Linked DNA regions of Homo sapiens. The protein of the gene in region 1 interacts with the protein of each later gene in a pairwise test. Each region holds a gene or a part of one and is shown in the gene's direction. Other genes may lie near its edges.

Evidence for each region.
Region 2: the proteins of CALML6 (region 1) and PCP4 interact in binary tests that used the Homo sapiens proteins (3 or more experiments, as listed by UniProt).

What each region holds. Positions count from the first base shown.
Region 1 is NC_000001.11:1,911,269-1,917,807, forward strand, and holds CALML6 (calmodulin-like protein 6), read left to right. Parts: upstream 1-3,991; 5' UTR 3,992-4,012; coding exon 4,013-4,039; coding exon of another isoform or gene 4,040-4,105; intron 4,106-4,416; coding exon 4,417-4,467; intron 4,468-5,172; coding exon 5,173-5,347; intron 5,348-5,483; coding exon 5,484-5,628; intron 5,629-5,705; coding exon 5,706-5,806; intron 5,807-5,878; coding exon 5,879-5,925; 3' UTR 5,926-6,028; downstream 6,029-6,539.
Region 2 is NC_000021.9:39,870,431-39,877,464, forward strand, and holds part of PCP4 (calmodulin regulator protein PCP4), read left to right. Parts: intron 1-7,034. UniProt on the Homo sapiens protein: Functions as a modulator of calcium-binding by calmodulin. Thereby, regulates calmodulin activity and the different processes it controls.

The sequences.
Region 1 (6,539 bases):
CTGATTTAAGTCCTGGGCTTGGTCCTCCGAATCGCTGCCCTCCCACTGCAGAGTGGAGAGCAGAGATGCTGCCTGAACCACAGAGGGCCCCCGACGCTCACACTTGGGCTCACCCCTGGCTTTCAAGTGCCCCTTTCTCTCCTTCTACCATTTGTAGCCTCGATTGGTGGCAGTTACCTGGTCCATCCCTCTGCCCTTCCAACACACCACCAGTGAGTGTAACAGGTGACTGTGCAGGGGCTTGTGTCTTCGTCCCGCACTGGTGCCTGGTTGCAGCTTGGCAGCGGGGGGTCCACCGCCAACATCCATCATGTCACAGCTGGGGCTCCCCAGAAGCTGACCCTGAGATGGAGTTTGGGATAGGAGCTCCCTGTTAGGGGTCAGCCCCTGTGACAGGAAGGGGGAAGCAGAACCAGACAGAAGGGGTCCTAGACCACCTGCAGGGACCATCAGAGTCCTGCCTGTGGACACAATGACCACCTTGTGTCATGTGGCTCAGGTGGGGTGGGTTTGCAGCTGAGGCTGCTGCCCTGGAGTGGGGCGGGGTCTCTCAGTGTCTTCTCACTGGAGACCCTCAGTGGCAGTGGTGATGTCTGCGGTGACCCTCTGTGGTAGAAGCAGGGGGATGTGTATATGTGTGTATGTCTGTATATATACGTCTGTCATATACACAGACGAGAGAGATTTTGAGGAATTGGCCCGTGTGATTGCACTGTAGGCAACCTCCAGGGAAGAGCTGATGTTGCAGCCGTCTGGAGGCAGAATTCCTTCTTCCTTGGGGGACCTCAGTCTTTTCTCTTAAGGTCCTCAACTAACTGGATGCGGCCCCCCCCTACATTATGGAGGGTCATGTGCTTTACCCAAAGTCTACTGATTTAAATACTTTTTCTTTTTTTTTTTGAGGTGGAGTCTCGCTCTGTCTCTCAGGCTGGAGTGCAGTGGCACGATCTCGGCTCACTGCAAGCTCTGCCTCCTTGGGGTTCACGCCATTCTCCTGCCTCAGTCTCCCAAGTAGCTGGGACTACAGGCGCGCACCACCATGCCCAGCTAATTTTTTTATTTTTATTTTTAGTAGAGACGGCATTTCACCATGTTAGCCAGGATGGTCTCGATCTCCTGACCTTGTGATCTCCCTGCCTCGGTCCCCCAAAGTGCTGGGATTACAGGCATGAGCCACCATGCCCGGCCTACTGATTTAAATACTAATCACATCTATGAAACACCTTCATGCCCGCCCATATTCATTGCAGCAGCAGTTCCAACAGCCAAGAGGTGGGAGCACCTAAGTGTTCATCAGCAGATGGTGGATAAACCGAGTGTGGTCCATCCCGAGAATAACATTTTACTCAGCCTTAAAAAAGACGCCTATTCCAGGCCGAGTGCGGTGGCTCATGCCTGTAATCTCAGCACTTTGTGAGGCCCAGGTGGGCGGATCACAAGGTAAGGAGATCGAGACGATCCTGGCTAACACGGTGAAACCCCGTCTCTAGTAAAAGTATAAAAAATTAGCCGGACTTGGTGGTGGGTGCCTGTAGTCCCAGCTACTCGGGAGGCTGAGGCAAGAGAATTGCTTGACCTGGGAGGCAGAGGTTGCAGTGAGCTGAGATCGCGCCACTGCACTCCAGCCTGGAGATAGAGCGGGACTCTGCCTCAAAAAAAAAAAAAAAAAAAAAGTCGAATTCTTTTTTTTTTTTTTGGAGATGGAGTCTCACTCTGTCACCCGGGCTGGGGTGCAGTGGCGCAATCTCGGCTCACTGCATCCTCCACCTCCCAGGTTCAAGCAATTCTCTGCCTCAGCCTCCTGAGTAGCTGGGATTACAGGCACCTGCCACCACGCCCGGCTAATTTTTTTATTTTTTTATTTTTTTTAGTAGAAACAGGGTGTAACCATCTTGGCCAGGCTGGTCTTGAACTCCTGACCTTGTGATCCACCCACCTCGGCCTCCCAAAGTGCTGGGATTACAGGCGTGAGCCACCACACCCGGCCCCCGGAGTCGAATTCTTAAAAACAGAAAGTAGAATAGTGATTGCCATAGGCTGGGGGGCGGGGGGTGGTGGAAGAGGGCAGATGCTGTTTAATGGGGGCGGGGGTCCGTTTTGCAAGGTGAAAGGTTCTAGAGATCTGCTGCATAACTGGGTACGGCCATGAACACAACTGCACTTGCACCTGAACGTGGCTGAGGCAGCATTCTAATTGTTACAGGGTTTTTCTCTTTTTCTGTTTTCTTTTCTTTTCTTTTTTTTTTTTGAGATGGAGTCTCGCTCTGTTGCCCAGGCTGGAGTGCAGTGGCGCGATCTCGCCTCACTGCAAGGTCTGCCTCCTGGGTTCACGCCATTCTCCTGCCTCAGCCTCCGGAGAAGCTGGGACTACAGGTGTCTACCACCACGCCTGGCTAATTTTTTTGTATTTTTTTTAGTACAGTCGGGGTTTCACTGTGTTAGCCAGGATGGTCTCGATCTCCTGACCTCGTGATCTGCCCGCCTCAGCCTCCCAAAGTGCTGGGATTACAGGCGTGAGCCACCGTGCCCAGCCTCTTTTTCTGTTTTCTTATGGAGAATAGCCCTTCGGTGATCAGAAGAGACACAAGAAGGAAAATAAAGATTGGATGAGTCTCAGGTCCTAGAGATACGGGGTATGTCCGAAGGCCACACAGAGGCTGGTCAGCATGAGGAGAGAGGGTTAGAGGGCGAGGACCTGTTCTGCTGCTTGTACTGGGTCTTGGATATGGGTAGAAGCCTAGATGGAGAGGAGAGAGGTTGATGGTGGTTGTGGCCATGTTGCCCCTTCCTACGGGCGGGGCGGGGGGTGTGCCCTCTGCTTTAAGTTGGGCTCCAGGGGTCACAGCTTTGAGTTTCACTCGTAAGCCCATCAGGATGTCTGGAACCTTCAGGGCTGTGGCCCAGGAATGTCAGACGCTGGAAGCCTGGGAACGGAGGAGGCAGAGCCTGCTGTCCACTGGCTGTGAGAGTTGTTGGGGTGGGGACTTGTCCAGGGCCACGAGGCCAGTGCAGTTCTCTGTGTCTCTGTACCCAGCTGGCCTGTACCTGGAGACCCTGAGCCAGAACCCAGGATGGGCCCTGGCCTGGGTGCTGCGGCTCCCTCCATTCTATGCCCCTGGGGGAAGGTGCTCAGTGCGTGAATTGTTCCCTGCCCCAGCCCAGGGGAAAGCTGAGGCCAGGGAGCAGCCAGGATGAAGGTCAGGGCCTCCCTTGGCCCCACCAGACCCAGGGCCGCTTCCCTCCAGCCCCGGCTCCCGTTTGGCTGGAGGTGCCCTGGGCCATTGGCCTGCCCTCGTCAGCGTCAATCTTGCAGTCTCAGCAGCTGGCCTGGGTTTCAGCGGGAGCCATCCTGTAGCTGCAGGTTTGCTGGCAGGCAGAGGGTTGGGCTGGCGGGGGACACTGAGTGCCCCACCTGCTCAGACTCTTCATGCCATCAAGGGGCCAGTCGGGGGGCAGGTGTGAGTGTGACCCTGAGGGCCCTGACCTGCCACTGCAATCCTCACACTCTTGCCTGGGTGGGGCAGGGAGGAGCTGGACCCTGGCTTTGGGAGTCTGGTGGGTAATTAGACCCAGACAGGGAGGGCTCAGTGCGGGTCTGAGGAGGGAACACACGTGTGCAGGCGTGTGCTCCACGGTGGCATGTTGATACGGACCAGCCTGGGCACCAGGCCCCCTCGGGAGCCAGCTTTGCTGTTCTGAGTGGAAGGGAGATCAGGTTTCCCTGAGAAACCCCAAAATAGCCCCCAACTGTGCCTGGCTTCCAGCGGGCAGCCCAGCCCCCAGGCCCTGTTTTGCTCCCTTTCCCCCTTCACCCCCAGCCCATGTCCTGCTGTCTCCTCCCTGAATGGTGGACCCTCAGCCCCTCCTGTACAAGATGGTCAAGCGGTGCCTCATGCATTTGTTCATTCGACCTGTCCTGAGAGTTTGTGACATGCTGGCACGGGGCCAATGTTGAGTCCACCAGGATGGGAGGGTGGCCAGGCTCTGAGCCACTGAGCACCAGCTGGCCAGGATGGGTCTTCAACAAGAAATCTCACTGGTAAGTGATGACAGCATGGGACCAGGGTCCCATGAAGACCTGCTGGAGGGCCGCACCTCTGGGAAGGTAGACTTGGAGCTTGGTCCAGTGAAGAGGGAACAGCACGGGGAACAGCGTGTGTGAGGGTCCCGCCATGTCTCAGCCCTTTCCTGGCCCCCGCACTTAGCCTTCGGTGCCCATCTTCAGGGTCAGGGGAAGCCCAGGCCAAAGCGGGCCGGGAAGGGGCCCTGTGGATAAGGCCGAGAGCCTGTCCCAAAATAGGGCCGGCAGGATTTCCCACCCATAAAAGGCTCTTGGAATCTGGACCCCGGGGACCCCAGGCAGCCAGGCCCAGCTAAAACTCAGCTGCCACCACTGCCCCAGCACTCTGCCCACAGCAGCCCTGGTGTCACCACCCTGCAGAATCCTGTCAGACAACCACCGACATGGTAAGGCTGCTCTCTGTGCCCGATGGAGTCTCTGGTGGGCTGGCTGGGTAGGTTGAGCTGGAACCTGGAGGTGCAATGACCTGCCACGGAGCCTGGGCAGGAAGGGGCTGAGGTAGAAGAGGGGGCCAAGCCCTGCTGCCACCAACACAGCCCTTGTTCCGGGGCCAGGGTGGAGCAGCCCTTTCTGAAAGCTGGCTCCCAGATGGGCAGCAGCAGTGGTGGCAGGCAGGTGTGGCCCGGTGCTGGACTCTCCCTCCGGAATGCCACACAGGCTGGAGCCCAGGGTTCTGCTTCCTGGGCTGTATCCCAATCCTGGGCTGGAAGCCTTTCCCGGGCCAGGGCTGGGCTCCTCCCCACCCTGCTCTCGGCTTCCTTCACCTGCCTCACCTGGTGTCCATTGCCAGGCTCCAGGGCCGCTGCCTGGCCCGCCTGGCCCTGCAGCTGCTGCTGTTCCCTCGCACGCTGGCTCCTGCCTGTCTGGCCCTTGCCCCTGTTAGCTGCCTGGCAGAGCCCTGCTGGCCCTGCAAACCCCTGGCGTGTGACCCCTTGTCCTGGAAGCCTGCTCTCCGCTGGGGGCCTCCTCTCTTACCACTCACCTTGAAAGGCTGCCAATGGAGGAATGGGTGCAGGGGGTACCTCTGACCCTTCCCTGGACACAGGGGCAGAAGGGGCTCCTGGTCAGGCCGGTGCGGGTGTCCCCTGCAGACAGAGCGCCTGTCGGCTGAGCAGATCAAGGAGTACAAGGGAGTCTTTGAGATGTTCGACGAAGAGGGCAACGGGGAGGTGAAGACGGGGGAGCTGGAGTGGCTCATGAGCCTGCTGGGTATCAACCCCACCAAGAGTGAGCTGGCCTCAATGGCCAAGGATGTGGACAGAGACAGTGAGCTCATGGCTGGAGTGGGGTGGGCAGCCTCGGGGGGGCCCTGGGTCAGGTGTCAGTGCCTACGGGGGGAAGAGGCAAAGCCCATGGGGAGTGCTGTGCCCCATCCCTTGAGCCCCAGCTGTGCCCCTTGCAGACAAAGGGTTCTTCAACTGCGATGGTTTCCTGGCACTAATGGGAGTTTACCATGAGAAGGCCCAGAACCAGGAGAGCGAGCTGAGGGCGGCATTCCGTGTCTTTGACAAAGAGGGCAAGGGCTACATTGACTGGAACACACTCAAGTAGGGCCCGGGTTGGGGGCGGGTGGTGGGCGGGCACGGGCAGGGCCGATGGAGTGGCTCAGCGCCAGGCCCCGTAGGTACGTGCTAATGAACGCAGGGGAGCCCCTCAACGAGGTGGAGGCGGAGCAGATGATGAAGGAGGCCGACAAGGATGGGGACAGGACCATCGACTATGAGGGTGAGTGGCCTGGAGCCCTGGGAGCCGTTGGCTGGGCCGGGGCAAGCTGCTGACCTGCCCCTCTGTTCCCAGAGTTTGTGGCCATGATGACGGGGGAGTCCTTCAAGCTGATCCAGTAGGTGCAGCTGCCGCAGCCGGGGGAGGCCTGCCCGGGAAGGCTGCTGCCCCTGCCCCCTGGCCCCCACTCCCCCGGCTCCGTGTAAAATAAATGTTCCAGCCCAACCTGTGTGTGCCTCACTGTCCCAGCCTGGGTTGGGGGGCAACAGGCAAAGGCGTGGGGCTGGAGAAGGAAAAGAGTTTTCCTGGCCCAGTCACAGAAACAGCCCCAGTCATTTCTGCCACGACACCTGACACCACCCATTGCCCAGCTCAGGGCTAGGAATGCCAGCCTGAAACCTGGACTGGGTACAGGCCGGGGACCACACGCTCGCCCTTCCTGCTTGCACTGGGGGTTGGCTGCCCAAGGGTTCCTCCCAGAGCCCTGGAGTCCCAGAGTCCTTCCCACATAGGCAGAGACCACTTAAATACAAACTTTATTCTCTCTCCAAGAAGATGCAGACGTCACAGGTGGCCCTGAGCTCCCACCCGAGGCTTAGGCCCAAGGGGCCTCTTCCAGGCTGAGGGCCTGCTGGGGCTGGGCCAGGGGCTGAGGCTGAAAGCAGCAGCCTGCCTAGTGGGTGACGCCAGGGGCCGGTGTAACATGGCACCGAGGTTGGGGCCACAGCAATGTGTG
Region 2 (7,034 bases), on another chromosome or scaffold:
TATCAGCTGGATCAGAAATCTTAACCATCACAGCCTCAGTTTACAAGGTGCATTCTTTCTCCCTCATCGTACTCACCCAGGCACAAGAAAAATGACTACCTTTGTTCAGCCACTTCATAGAGCTTTTGAAAAAAGAGTTCCTGGAATAATGACAGTCAGTCCCACGTTCTCCTTTAGGTGTCTATTTTTAAGTTGCTTTTCAAAAGAACTCATTTAGGAGAGCTAGGGGCAAGGTTGGAAGGCATAAGGACAAACATCTGAGCGTGAATTTAAAAACGTGACGCCCTTGCCCTGTTTAGGGTGCGGGTTGGAGACGTTCCAGGTCACGTAATCAAATGACAGCTATTAATTGGACTTGAGACCCCTTTGGGAAAAGCCTCTTCGTAACCCCGAGTTTCACGGTCATGGGCTGGGCTTTTTTCTTGCTTTGGCGTGGATGGGAAAGTGCAACTCAGTACAAGGGCTGTGGCTCTTTCTTTCGTCTAGACATTGGCCGCAGGGCAAGGCGATGCCCATCAAAGGCATGGTTTGAAAAACATCAAGGACATTTAAGGGTAAATCTTTAGATACACATGTCTGTTCTTAGCACCCAAACAGAATCCATGTCGAACTTAATGTATACGTTAAAACGTACAATAATCTCTAAAGGAAGAAGAAAGCTGTAAATGGCATTTTTCTTGACAGAGATTGCAAACGGGAGGCTACATGCAGTTAACTCGTGAGGTGAGGACATAGAAAAAACATGAATTAAAAAAATGTTTTGCCACTGATTTTAAAATATCATACATACAACAGTGGTTTGGGGCTTACATAGTTGACTCTCACGATTGCCCAGTGGAGGGACTAAGGTTAAAACGAAACAGATCCTAAGAAGAGAAAGATTATGGCTTTGAGCTTCTTACAACGTAAGGGTAAACTCAAACAGATGCTAATGGGTGGCTGATTAGATTTGTAAGGAGCTGTATATTTTAGACCAGTTGTTAAGCACAGATTCTGAGGGTGACTGCATAAAATGTGGGTTTTGCAAATGGTCTGCAAAACCCAGCAACAAAGGTCAAATGACAATTCAACTTCTTATGTAATTATAACCCCATTTGAGGGTGTACCTGCAGCAAGGACTCTGACAGATCAAGCAAGATCAGTTTTAGTTTCGTTGGACAACACCATGAAAGATACTCTTTCCTCTAATTGGGGATATTAAGTCCACATAGTCACCAGTTACAATCTGGGTTTGAAGTTCAACTTTTCCTAATAGAGAAGAGGTCAAAATTAAGCAGGAATATGTGTTTCCCAGGGCCGATGATTGTTAAGAGTTGCCATAAAACTTGTTTCCCCAGTCATGCATTCTATGAAGAAATGCTGTGGGGTTAAAAAGTCTCAGGTTTTCTCTTTTGAATTTTAAGAATGACACAATGCAAGATGTATATTTTTTTTTCAAAAAGAAAATAAATGACTCATTATTGATTTTATTAAAGGTTTAGTGAAGTAGTACGATCAAGATGAAAAGAAAACATGTTTTTGTAATGGAAAGTTTCTTAAACTTATGATGAGCACATTCTTTGTGTTATTTATTTACTTATTTATTTGAGATGGAGTCTCTCTCTCTTGCCCAGGCTGGAGTGCAGTAGCGCGATCTTGGCTCACTGCAACCTCTGCCTCCCAGGTTCAAGCAATTCTCCTGTCTCAGCCTCCTGAGTAGCTGGGACTATAGGCTCCTACCACCACGCCCAGCTAATTTTTGTAGTTTTAGTAGAGACAGGGCTTCACCATATTGGTCTGACTGGTCTCGAACTCCTGACCTCAGGTGATCCGCCCGCCTTGGCCTCCCAAAGTGCTGGGATTACAGGTGTGAGCCACCGCACCCAACCTGCGTTATTTTTTAAAATTCTAATTTCTACTCTCAGTGTTTCATTAGAGATGTGATCGGGGGAAGGCATTCACAATTTGTCTATGGTCCTTCTGTTCTTAGACCACTGGACACATTGAACTATTTGGACGCACAGATAATATCAGGACCTAAGCCTGGGGCTTTTCATTAATTTAAAATGACTTTCTAGAAAGGTCTTCATACTGGGAGAAAAGAAGAATTTTAGGGGATGCATGCATACAGGTTTATGTTATATTTAATGATATTTTTATGAAACACAACATTAAATATCCTGCTGTTAAAGTATTATAGGCTGCATAGTATTGATTAGAAGCATCCCAGACTGTGAACTTCCCAAAAGGGACAATTTTATGTCATTCACAAGTCTGACTGCTGGTTGGGCACTTGGTAAATGTCCAGTTACTGAATGAATAAATAAGTTTTGGGATGTGGATTTATCAGTTGCTGTAATCAATAGGCCAGGCACCCTCTTCTCTAAATGTTGAGGCTTGTGGTTGGGATACATTTGGGAAAGTTGTATTCCATCTTTTGTTCTTTACTCCTGGTTTGAAACCTGTGTTTGCCATGTAAATCCTTTTATGTGGGAAATGGGTGCATTGTTATATACGCAACATAAGTGCTCTCATGACAGTAAAAGAAAATGAGAAAAAATAAGAAGGATCTCAACAGAAGGACCTCTTGACATTTGGGAAAATGTCAGGGAAAATATGGGAACGGAGCAAGGGACGTAGAATTCTAATATCCTATGTTTCCCTGTTGTCTCCATTGAGACTAGCTCACTTCAGATAAGCTCAATGAAACTCAAGCAAAAGAGACTGTAGCCAGAGAGGCAGAGCCTGTGAATACCTTGGAAAGTGGTTTGCTGTATTGAAACAGAAAACCAATTTGACTGTGATTAGAAGAGAATAAGAGAGAGTCTAAGCAGATCTGTAGTAATATAGCCCCAGTGCCCAATCTCCATCAGCCCAGTTGTAAACTCTGGCATATTGTTGAAGGTAAACATCTAGCACGCGGAAAGCAAGTTCCATATTATTGCAAGGAAATAATTTAATTATCATCTAAAATTAATTCTTAATAGCATACTCATAATATTAATTAAAATAAATAATTGATATTTGAATATTTAAATATTTTAGTAAATTTATATTTGAAATAGGAATATATGAAAATTTATATGCAAAAAGGGATGGATTCAAATTTCTTTTCTTGGGGAGTTCGAAACTGAATTGCACGTCCATATCCCCATGTGATTAATCTGATAGGAGCTCTGCTTTCCTATCATCCCCAGGGATGAACTATTTACCATTCTTCTTCCCATTTTTCAAATGAGGTGCAATGTGAACAATGAATACAGAAACGTTTTCCAGTCACCTGGCACAAGGGCCTTTGGGGTATAGATATGGGAATGTTCGATAATGGATTGTTTTGTGCCACAAACAAAGCAAGCTTGCCACAGTCATCAATGGCTCAAACCTATAAATGCCACATTCATGTTGGGGCCATTCTACATGAACAATTTAGCATAAGCCACACATTCCAGGCATGGGTCTGCTTGTATATTGTTTATGCCTCACAAAGAGCTCTGAATTTATGCTTCAGAATCTCACTGAATTTACTGCTCATTCCATTTCTGGAAGGGAAACACTTGGCCCATATTTATGACATTGCCAGTAGAAAAATCAATCACCCACTAAATGCCATTATTTTATATTTTACTCTTAACCTGCCATTTTATAAATGAAAGGAAGACAAATTAGACTCATAAAGCAGGAAGGTAATCATCCACAAATTGAACATTTAAGGGCAAGGAAGCAAAAGCTGTGAACTGTTCCAACCATTCAAATAAGGCAATTTTCCTCACAAAGGAGCTAGAATAGAGAGCAGGGGAGTCCCTCTCTTCAAGGTTTCTGCCCTCCATTTTAGGACAGTCTTGGACTTGGATGAGACTAAAACGTCTCCAGCCATACACGAGTCAGACCTCTTCCTCGTAGTTCAAAAGACAACTTTTGAATGTTAAATATTATTTACGACGGTTTGATAGCAAAATGGGATCCAGATTGGCTTGAGATCACGCTATTCCTGGTATAACAATCCAAGTCTGTGGTATAGTGGCATGACAAAAGACACAGTCATCTGTTCCCGTAGCACCACATCTGTGCTTTGGTCAATAATCGAATGAAGTAATGGTTATTTTAATTTTATATGACCTCTGAGAAAAGGACTCCAGAAGTTAACAAGACCCATTAACATGTGTCTTAATCAAATAAGAGTAAAAATATAACAAGGAAACACAGAAACACAAGAGGGAGAAATAATATAATTTCTTCCTTTTTTTTCAAGATCTTTTTTTTTTTTCTAAAAAACAATACAAGCATCTGTTCATCAGGTGGTTAAGTTCTAGTATTTTAAAAAAAAACCTAGTTAAAAGGTTACACCTGCTTTAAAATTTATGATTCTTATGTACAGTAGCTCCCCCTTATCTTCAGATGCCCGGTGAATGGCTGAAAGTGTGGGTGGTACCGAATCCTACACATGCTATGCTTTTTCCATCCGATAATACCTGAAAGTGCTGCTAAGTGGCTACGGGCAGGTAGTGTAGACAGTGTGGATACGCTGGGCAGATGAATGATTCATGTTCTTAGACAGCAAGCGGTTTCATAACGCTACTCAGTAGAGTGTGCAATTTGCAACTTATGAATTGTTTATTTCTGGGATTTTCCATTGAATATTTTTGGACTGTGGTTAGCAGCAGGTAACTCAAACCTCAGAAAGTGAAACCAAGGAAGGTTAAGGGGGAACTACTGTGTGCAATTTCTTTATTAAATAATAGCCACTGTTTCGTTAGGAGTTGTTAGAGAAATATCACTTTTTTTTTTCTTGTACCCAGCAAAATGACTAATTGTATTTAGGGTTTTCTTTTTCAAATTGTAAATTTTCTCACAGTTTTTTTTTTGTTATGCAGAGAAATCTCTGATGCAATGAATGGGTCAAATTTTGAGCTGAGTGTGGCTGTGTGACAGCATCCTGGGTGCTGGTCTCCTCATCTCTGAGGGGTGACAGCATACACACAGACACTGGTGCTGCCACAAGTCTGCCCATGTCCAAGACGGGCGATGGTGTGGAGCCTTCCTTTACAGATCATAACTCTGCATCTTCCAGAGAGTTTTAGGTGGAAATAGCAACAAGCAAAACTTCAAACCATTATGCCATAGTGAGATCTTCTCCTTAAAACAATAAGGGTGACTTGACGTGATTTTATCCTCTTGCCTTCTATGACTTTCCACAATTGTGGTTGCTCTAACAACAACTGTCTGTTTTAGCATATCAATGTTTTGGGAACTATCTTTTCAATCTTCCTGCAGATCCATAACAGAACTATGGAATAGTGTCCACAATGACTAAGGATATCAATACTCCCAAGTTTTTGATAGTGTACCTTAATAGGGAAAAAATTTGACCATGTATACACAACAAATTTTTATTTATTTTACAATTATGTATACATGCGAATATGCCAATATAGTAAGAGTTAATCATTAAAGGAAGGGTAAGGAAATCTGTAATTCCAATAGACTTTTTGGTAACTGTACTTCTTTTTGAGTCTAATTTGATGGCTGAGGTTTTTAAGCTTGTATTGGTGCCCATGAAGACATCCTAAGAAAAGAAGGTTTAGTTAGTGCTTCTATCGTTTCCTTGGTGTTTGTGCTGATGGTGTTAGTATTATTTTCAGTCTATGATTTAATGCAGAATTTTTCAATTAAATCTGAATATATATTTAATTGAAATATATATTAAATATATAGTAAATAATATATATATGATTTACTATTTTAACCACTTTTAAGTGTACAGTTCAGCGGTATTAATTACATTTACACTGTCGTGAAACGGGTCCACAGAACTTGTTCATCTTTCAAAGCCAAGACTCTGCACCCATTCAACAACCACTCTCCATTACCCCGCCCCTATCCTCTGGCAAACCCATTCTATTTCTTACCTCTATCAGTTTGACTACTTTTGGTACCTCCTGTGCGTGGAATCATACAGTATTTGTCTTTTTGTGACTGGCTTATTTTACTTAGCATAATGTCTTCAAGGTTCATCTATGTTGTGGCCTGTGACTATATAGGACATTTTAAAAGCCACTTACCTACTGTGGGAAGATTAGTTTAGTTAAAGGTAGATTGTATAATCTGTAAATCCTCTTAATGGAACATAAGGAACTGCAAGGTATCACATGATGATATTCTGAGAGCAAGTCAACAGGCAGTGTGTCTGGGACAATCTCCCATTGTGGGACTCCTACTCTTTCCTACCCACCAAGTGATGATGTCATTATCAATCCAGATATTAGCTATGAATGAAACCTAATTTTTAAATTGATCTTAGATCCTACACAAATATAAATAGAAATTCTAAAGTCTTCTTTACCATGAGTGTTTGTGGCAGTGAAGCACCTTACAACCCCAGAGGTGCCGTTGACACTGTGGTCTGTGCCAACAGCACTGCCTGGAGTTGTGCTGTGAACAACCTATGCCACTGAACATGGTGGCTCTGCCCTTCCTTGAGTTGATGTCAGCCTGCTTAAGGACGGTTGACCTTGAGAAAGGCTGTCGTTTTTATAGTTCCACTTAGAATTCAGGGAATCAGAGAAGGGCATCGTTGTCATTTCATTCAAAGTGGTCATTTTAAAATAGGGGACTGAGTGTCCAACGATGAATCTTGTGCAGAATCACAGAGCTTCTTCAGAGAAAACCTAAGTTTCCTTTCCACATTTTCCATGCTATTACATTTCTCATTTTCTGGATACAACCTAATTTCTTTTAAACCTGTCCAAATTCCACTTAGGGTTTGCACAAGTAATTTATTAAATTAAAATTGTCCTGAATATTTTTATTAGCCTTGAGTAAAAAAAGAACAGCCACAGAAATCTTGACAAAGCCATTGTTTTGTTCATCAGGTCTTCCACTCTATTTCTAGGGATTCCAGCTTCCACCCTGACACCCCCAGCCTCCCATCCCGTCACACACAGAGAAGCTGAGAAATGTTAATAATGCTTCCCTGTGGAATGTTTCATTAAGACCCTTGTTGGGCATGGTGGCTCACTCCTGTAATCCCAGCACTTTGGGAGACCCAGGTGGGAGGA